Homo sapiens: one gene and its partner. The protein of the gene in region 1 purifies or fractionates together with the protein of each later gene. This does not show direct contact. Each region holds a gene or a part of one and is shown on either strand. Other genes may lie near its edges.

Region 1 (3,812 bases):
GGCATGCACCACCATGCCCACCTAATTTTTCTTTTTGTATCTTATGTAGAGATGGGGTTTCACCATGTTGCCCAGGCTTGTCTCAAACTCCTAGACTCAAGTGATCCTCCAGCCTTGGCCTCCCAAAGTGCTGGCATTATAGATGTGACTCACTGTACCAGGCCAACTTTACTTTTTTTTTTTTTTTTTTTTGAGACAGAGTCTCACTCTATCACCTAGGCTGGAGTGCAGTGTTGTGATCTCGGCTCACTGCAACCTCCGCCTCCCTGGGTTCAAGCCATTCTCCTGCCTCAGTCTCCTGAGTAGCTGGGATTACAGGCACCCGCTACCAAGCCTGGCTAATTTTTTGTATTTTTAGTAGAGATGGGGTTTCACCATCTTTTCCAGGCTGGTCTCAAACATTTAGCCTCAGAGGATCCACCCTCATCGGCCTCCCAGAGTGCTAGGAATACAGGCGCCCACTACCATGCCTGGCTAATTTTTGTATTTTTTTTTTAGTAGAGGTGGGGTTTTGCCATGTTGACCAGGCTGGTCTCGAACTCCTGACCTCAGGTGATCCGCCCACCTTGGCCTCCCAAAGTGCTGAGATTACAGGCGTGAGCCACCATGCCCAGCCTGCAACCTCAATCTTCTGGGCTCAAGTGATCCTTCCACCTTAGCCTCCCAAGTAGTTTGGACTACAGACATGCACCACCATGCCCGGCTAAATTTGTATTTTTAGTAGAGATGGGGTTTGACTATGTTGTCCAGGCTGGTCTCAAACACCTGCACTCAAGCAATCTGCCTGCCTCAGCCTCCCAAAGTGCTGAAATTACAGGCATGAGCCACTGTGCTTGGCCAAGTTATTTTATTAATAAAAGAGTAAAGTTGCATGATCTGATCACAAAGAATGACGATTTTATTTCTTAGATATTTTGTCCCAAGTGAAAGGAGACTGAAAACCATTAGGTGGTGTTCACCCTGGTGAGCAGGAGCCAAGCCCATGAGTCATGGGCCTTCTCCATGTTCTTCCTCAACATTGGAAACAACTTTGTTTTGGAATATTGCTCGTGAGGAATCCAAACACATAGTGTTGAATGGTGAAGGGAGATAAAAGATGAGATAGCACAGTAGGCTGCCTTCCCATTCACTTGCCTAGGCCAGTGATGTAGGCGTTGATCAATGCTGTGTGAGTGTTCTGTGGGGAAAGTCCGGCAACTCCCTCTAACCATAGTAGCAGACTTTGATCCTCCTGAAAAGGTTCCCTTTGACCTGGTTGTTAAGCATTGTGGATGGTAGTGCTTGATTATTTCCCCCCACCCTGGAAGTACTTGCTAGTATAAGAGAATATGCTGTCTTGGGAGAAGTACCATCAACAAAAATGCTCTTTGCAAAGAAGACCTCATTTTAGTAGGTTTCTGTCCCTTGCCCTGCATATGCCCTTTAGAATGGTTCAGAACTTTTGAGACATGGTCTGGCTCTGTCGCCCGGGCGGCTGGAGTGCAGTGGCATGATCTCGCTCACTGCAACCTCCACCACCAGGGCTCAAGTGATTTGCTCACCCCAGCCTCCCAAGTAGCTGAGCTGGGCGACAGAGAGAAACTCCATCTCAAAAAAGAAAAAAAAAAAAAAAAGGAATGGTTCAGAACTTGCAGAGAATACAAATTTCAGAGATCCCTGGATATACAAAATGTCCCTGGATACCGATCACTGACGTCTTTTATATGGTAAGAGGGCAGAGTCAGGCTAGAAATTTTGTATTGGTTCTAAATAATAGCTGTCTGCTTTAATCAGTTGCTTTCTGATAAGCATGTCTGAATTGGTGCCCAAGGAATACTGTCTGGAATGATTAATGAGATTTGCTAATGAGGCCCTTTTCTTTTGCAGCCTCCTAATTTTCCCTACAGAGATGATGTCATGTCAGTGAATCCTACCTGTTTGGTCCTTATTATTCTTCTGTTTATTAGCATTATCTTGACTTTTAAGGTAAGCATGAAGATTTTACTTATAGTCTAAAAATATTAAGTGTATTCCTGAATACCAAATAAGTAAACAAACTTTGGTCAGTTTATTGTCTTTCTTTGGACATCCAAATTGCTTTTTGATTTCCTAAGATTACAATTCTTTATGCTGTCTATGTTGGAGGTAAACACTAATCAAAATTCCACAGTTTGATCAAGGAGTCCAAAATATATTTGGACAGAGATAAGTTAACATAATGTTATACATTACATAGTATATGATATTGCAACGTCTGTTACAAGGTCTGTGTAATGGATATTCTTTTGTAATTTTTTGCTAAAAGTGTAATATTTTCTGAATATTGTTCTATCTCAATCCATTATATGAATATCATTATTTAATAAATTACTTGATGAGCATTGAGACATTTTTTACTTTTTCACTTAATAGGGCTGTAGTGAATATATTTAAGTACATCCTTATATTTATGCATTTATCTCAAGATAAATTTCCTTTTTTTTTTTTTTTTTTTTTTTTTGAGATGGAGTCTCGCTCTGTCGCCCAGGTTGGAGTGCAGTGGCGCAACCTCGGCTTACTGCGAGCTTCGCCTCCCGGCTTCACGCCATTATCTTGCCTCAGCCTCCCCAGTAGGTGGGACCACAGATACCCGCCACCATGCCCAGCAAATTTTTTTGTATTTTTAGTAGAGATGGGGTTTCACTGTGTTAGCCAGGATGGTCTCGATCTCCTGACCTCATGATCCGCCCACCTCGGCCTCCCAAAGCTGGGATTACAGGCATGAGCCACTGTGCCCGGCTTCAAGATAAATTTCTTAAAATCAGGGTGTTCATGGTTGGAAAGCCTTTGATAGGTTGTCAAATTGATGTCCCCCAAAGTTAAATGACTTCTACTTCCTGCAGCAGTGCCTCACCCTTATCAATCAATTGCTGCAAATTCTTTTTCATCTTGGTCAATCTGTTTATAAAACCATCATTATAACTTGTGCTTATGAGCTACTAATGGGTAGAAAACTCTCATGGCTCTTTATGCTTTCAACTTTTTTCTTTTTTTATTTATTTTTCTTTCTTTCTTTTTTTTTTTTTTTTGAGGTAGGGTCTCTCCCTGTAGTCTAGGCTGCCTCCTGCCTTGGTTTCCCAAAGTTTTGGGATTACAGGTGTGAACCACTGCACCCAGCATACTTTGAATTTTTGAATCTCAATGCCTTTCATTGTCTTAATTTTGGCATAAAATTATGTCATTCTTCAAAAATCATGCCTCAGTAAACTTGGGAAAGCTGCATTGAGGCAGAAAATTCATATAGGTACTGTGATGAAAAGGAGTAGAAAGAAAGTGGTTCATTGGAAACCAGTTGGCCAGGTGAAATGGCTCACACCTGTGATCCCAACACTTTGGGAGGCTGAAGTGAGAAGATTGTTTGAGCTGGGAGTGTGAGGCTGTAGTGTGCTATGATAGCAGCACTGTACTTCAGCCTGGGTGACAGAGTGAGACCCCGTCTTGTTGTTGTTGTTGTTGAGACAGAGTCTCACTCTGTCACCTAGGCTGGAGTGCAGAGGTGCGATCTCGGCTCACTGCAACCTCTGCCTCCTAGGTTCAAGCAATTCTCCTGCCTCAGTCTCACGAGTAGCTGGGACTACAGGCGCCTGTTACCACACCCAGCTAATTTTTGTATTTTAGTAGAGACGGGTTTCACCATGTTGGCCATGCTGGTGTCAAACTCCTGACCTCAGGTGATTTGCCTGCCTCGGCCTCCCAAAGTGCTGGAATTACAGGCATAAGTCACCACACCTGGCTGGGGACACCGTCTCTTAAAAAATAAATAAGGCCGGGTGTGGTGGCTCATGCCTGTAATC
Region 2 (3,812 bases), on another chromosome or scaffold:
CCCTCTAGGCTGAGGGGATGTCAGACAGGAGGGGACCAGGAGGGCGCCCTCCAGGCTGAGCGGAGACTTTTACTCTGTGATTGACAACAGTTCCTGGGCAATCCTAGATCAGTAGTCAGAAAACCTTAACTGGAAAAGAGAATGCATGGCGTTTTCATTTCTCTGAGGAAGCCGAGAAACTTTAATTAGGTGACGGGGTTCCGAGCACTTAAGCAGATGGGGTGCGGTGAAGGCCCAGGGAGGAGGAGGGCAGGGAGGTGCACGTCCTCTGTGCCCCACACACTTTCAACCACTGCAACAAACAAGCACCCAAGAGAGGCTGTGCGGCAGAGCCCTGCACCCACAGGCCTTTGACAGCACAGTGAGGGGCCTCCGCACGTGGCCTCGGGACGCTCACTCGACGCACACCCGGTGCATCACACTGGCACCTAAAGACAGGCCGTGCAGCTAAAAGGAGCACGTGTGGCCAAGGAGAGCAATCAGCTGTCCCGCGTTTCTAAAGGCAGGGACCGAGGCTGTGGAGGGGCGAGCAGGGCAGGCCGGCGGAGGCTACTTGAGCAGCTTGGCCACGTTCAGGCTGGGCACCACAATGTCCTTGAAGAGGGGCACGTAGCTGGGGCTGGCCTGTGCTGGGCCCTGCTCCAGGGTCTCCATGATGGTCTGCTTCATGTCACGGCTGGCGTCCCCACGCACAGCCAGCAGCGCACCGATGTGGTCATCCCTGGGGATGGGGAGATGTCAGCCCATGCCCACTTAGCAGCCCTGTGATGCACCACGCTGCCAGGGACTCACGGCTTCACCACCCCAGCTGACAGAACACAGGGGGTGAGGACCGCTGCAGACAAATTGCACCTTTCCCTTTTCAGCGGGAGACAAGCCTGCATTTTCATCTTACTCTGTCTTTTCTCAATCCAATTGCAGAAAGATTTTTCAACACTGCTTTTATAAATCTTTGTTCCGGCCCAACCAGAGGGGAGACCGTGGAGAGCTCAAGACCCCGTTTTTCCACGTTTAACCAGCGAGATGATGGGACGGAGGTGACGCGGCTGCAGCCATGGAGGTGGCCCCTTGGGGAAGTGGCAGGTGCCCTGAGACAGGGGCCGCAAAGGCTGGCCTGGGGCCTGGAGCCAGCATGGTGGAGGGGGGACGTGCGTGGGTCCCCTTCCCTGGACCTGGTACTGGGGACTCCCTGTAATCACGTCCTCGGAAGGTGTCTGGTCCAAGCTGCACTTGGGCCCTCCCGAGTCCACCATGAGCACAGAGGAAACTTCCTAAACTCGCCCCACTGAGGCCACTCCACAGCCCAAATCTTCCCCACCACACACAGCAGAGCTGTCACAGCCCCGCCCCCACCCCACTGTCCCCACCCGGGATGTGCCCCTCGAGCTCCACCCACCCACACTGTAGCCCAGGCCAGGTGGAAGGCAGCACAGAAGCAGCTCTGCTCCCTGCGCCTGGGCCCCGCTGTGCCGCACCTGAACCCTTGCCGTGCTGCAGGGCTGAACTTGCGAACCAGGAGCCCCACCCGCCCCAGACAGAAGGAGGGACCTGCCGCTCCACTCCAGGATTCTAAGGCAGGATTCTAAGACGTGCATCCCTTACCTGATGTCTGGATACTTGCTGACCAGAGTGGAGACCTCCAGGTAGAGCAGAGAAGGGTCTGTCAGCTTGATCACTTCGGCCACAGCCACGATGGTGTCGCAGTATCCGTCCACGTCTTCCCCGAAACCCTGGAAGGCAGCAGCAATGTGAGGAGCCGCCCTCGGCTGTCCCGCGGCGCTGGGAGCAGCTGGATTCTGGCTGAGCCCCTTCCTGACTGGGAACCTCCCTCTTCACCTGACTCCTCAGGATCTACTCTGAAAGCTCAGTGACAGGGCCAGGGGTCTGGGGTGAGGGCGAGACCGTGGGAGGCAGCCAGCACCTCGCAGCGCAGGACAGACTGGGAAGCGTCCGTCAGGGAGCTGTGGGCGGCCTCGGGAAGCCGGCGGGGCCGGCGCGTCTACCTCTGTGGACATTCGTGTCCAACCACAAGGTCAGGCAGGACCTGGACCCAGGCTCCCCCCGCCTGACAAACACACGACACACTCCCATCTACTGGCCCGAGTCCCGGGGTGGAGGCTGAACAGGGCCGCGGAGCGACAGGCCTTCTCCAGCCCGGACCTGCGCGACACTCACGGACGCCAGCTTCCGGAACAGGAAGCGCAGCTGCTCTGCCTCCCTAACCATCTTCTCGGCACCCTCCTTGCGCTCCTCCGGGCTCCGGAAGGAAATGCGCTTCTGCATGACCGCCCGCAGGTACTCCACCACCACGCGCCGGTGCGCCTCGGCCGTCATCCTCTGGGGAGACACGCGCGGTCAGCGGCAGGCTCCACGGCTCTGGCGGCCAGGAGCACCCTCATTGAAACCCAGGCTGGGGCTCCCGGTGGCTCCCCGGAGGCTCTGAGCCCACTCCTCCTCGCTCCGCCACGGCTCTGGCATCTCACCGCAGAGGAGGAGCGGGGGCTCAGTGGGGGAACAGTGACGGTGACCTGGACCCCCGCACCAGGCCAGCTCCGGCCCCCAGCAGGACAGACGCGGGCGAGGCAGTGCCGCGCATGAGCACTCGGTCCACAGACAGGCCCGTGTCAGTGGCTGCTGCTGTCCTTTGATAACGACCGCAGCATCTGGAAAACGCGGCAGGCACTTTGGAGGAAAGAGGAACCTGGGTCCTGCAGGAAGGAGGGTCTGAAGCGGAAAGAAATCCCTGGGGCCTCAGGGAGTGAGTGGAAGGCAAGGAGCTAAGACGGGGCACGCGGGCCTCTCCGGGAACCATGGCTCCCTCCACCTCGAGGGCCATGCCACAGGGCCCCGGCCATTCTCACCAGAGCCCCGTCCCAGGGAGGTGGCGTCCGCAGAGCCTATTGCCTCCCTTGGGCTGATAGGACAACAAGTGAACGTTCACTCACGGAGGGACTCGCTGGATGCTGAATTCTGAGCAGGGTGAGAGGTGAGCCCTAGCGTCAAGGTGATGAGGGAACTAGGTCCCACCTTCTTACCTTCTTATACGGCTTTTTAATTTTGGCAAAATCGTTGAAATAGTCTTCCACGGTGACACAGATAATGTCTACAGCGTTTGACCCTAATAGCCACTTCTTCGTCATCAATTCATTCAGATGTTGCTGAAAAGCAGAAACAGATCATAGAAATCATCACCTCAACGTCCCACGAGAGCCGAGTGCATGTGGGAGGGAGGCACTTCCTCACCTCAACGCCCCACGAGAGCTGCGTGCAGTGTGGGAGGGAGGCACTTCCTCACCTCAACGCCCCACGAGAGCTGCGTGCAGCGTGGGAGGGAGGCACTTCCTCACCTCAACGTCCCACGAGCACTGAGTGCGTGTGGGAGGGAGGCACTTCCGTGCATCTTTGCTACGTCACACTGCTTTTCTAATTACAACAGCAATGCGCACTCAGGTAAAAATTTGATTATATAATCTGCAAATGTGTACTTTAAGTATAGGAGATTTATACTACAATTTCTGTGATGAGCTTCCCAAAATGACATGTTAAAGATGGAAATATCTGTGCATGTATACATTTTACCTTTAGTGGCTACATATATTTATCGTATTTATTTGCCCAATTCTCTATTGATGGACATTTAAATTTTTTTCACATTTTGCAATAATGCAACAGTGAATCTGTATAATTCTGATGAAATTCCTTAAAGTTGAATTTTTCAGTCAAAAAGTATACACATTAAAACCAATAAAAGTATACAAATTAAAACTCCAATAAAAGTATACAAATTAAAACTCCAATAGAAGTGTACAAAT

Evidence for each region.
Region 2: the proteins of LAPTM4B (region 1) and EXOC3 purify together in Homo sapiens (co-immunoprecipitation; one study listed by IntAct). This does not show direct contact.

The regions. Positions count from the first base shown.
Region 1 is NC_000008.11:97,817,274-97,821,085, forward strand, and holds part of LAPTM4B (lysosomal-associated transmembrane protein 4B), read left to right. Parts: intron 1-1,866; coding exon 1,867-1,965; intron 1,966-3,812. UniProt on the Homo sapiens protein: Required for optimal lysosomal function. Blocks EGF-stimulated EGFR intraluminal sorting and degradation.
Region 2 is NC_000005.10:463,636-467,447, reverse strand, and holds the end of EXOC3 (exocyst complex component 3), read right to left. Parts: intron 3,159-3,812; coding exon 3,036-3,158; intron 2,338-3,035; coding exon 2,176-2,337; intron 1,731-2,175; coding exon 1,603-1,730; intron 722-1,602; coding exon 550-721; 3' UTR 158-549; downstream 1-157. UniProt on the Homo sapiens protein: Component of the exocyst complex involved in the docking of exocytic vesicles with fusion sites on the plasma membrane.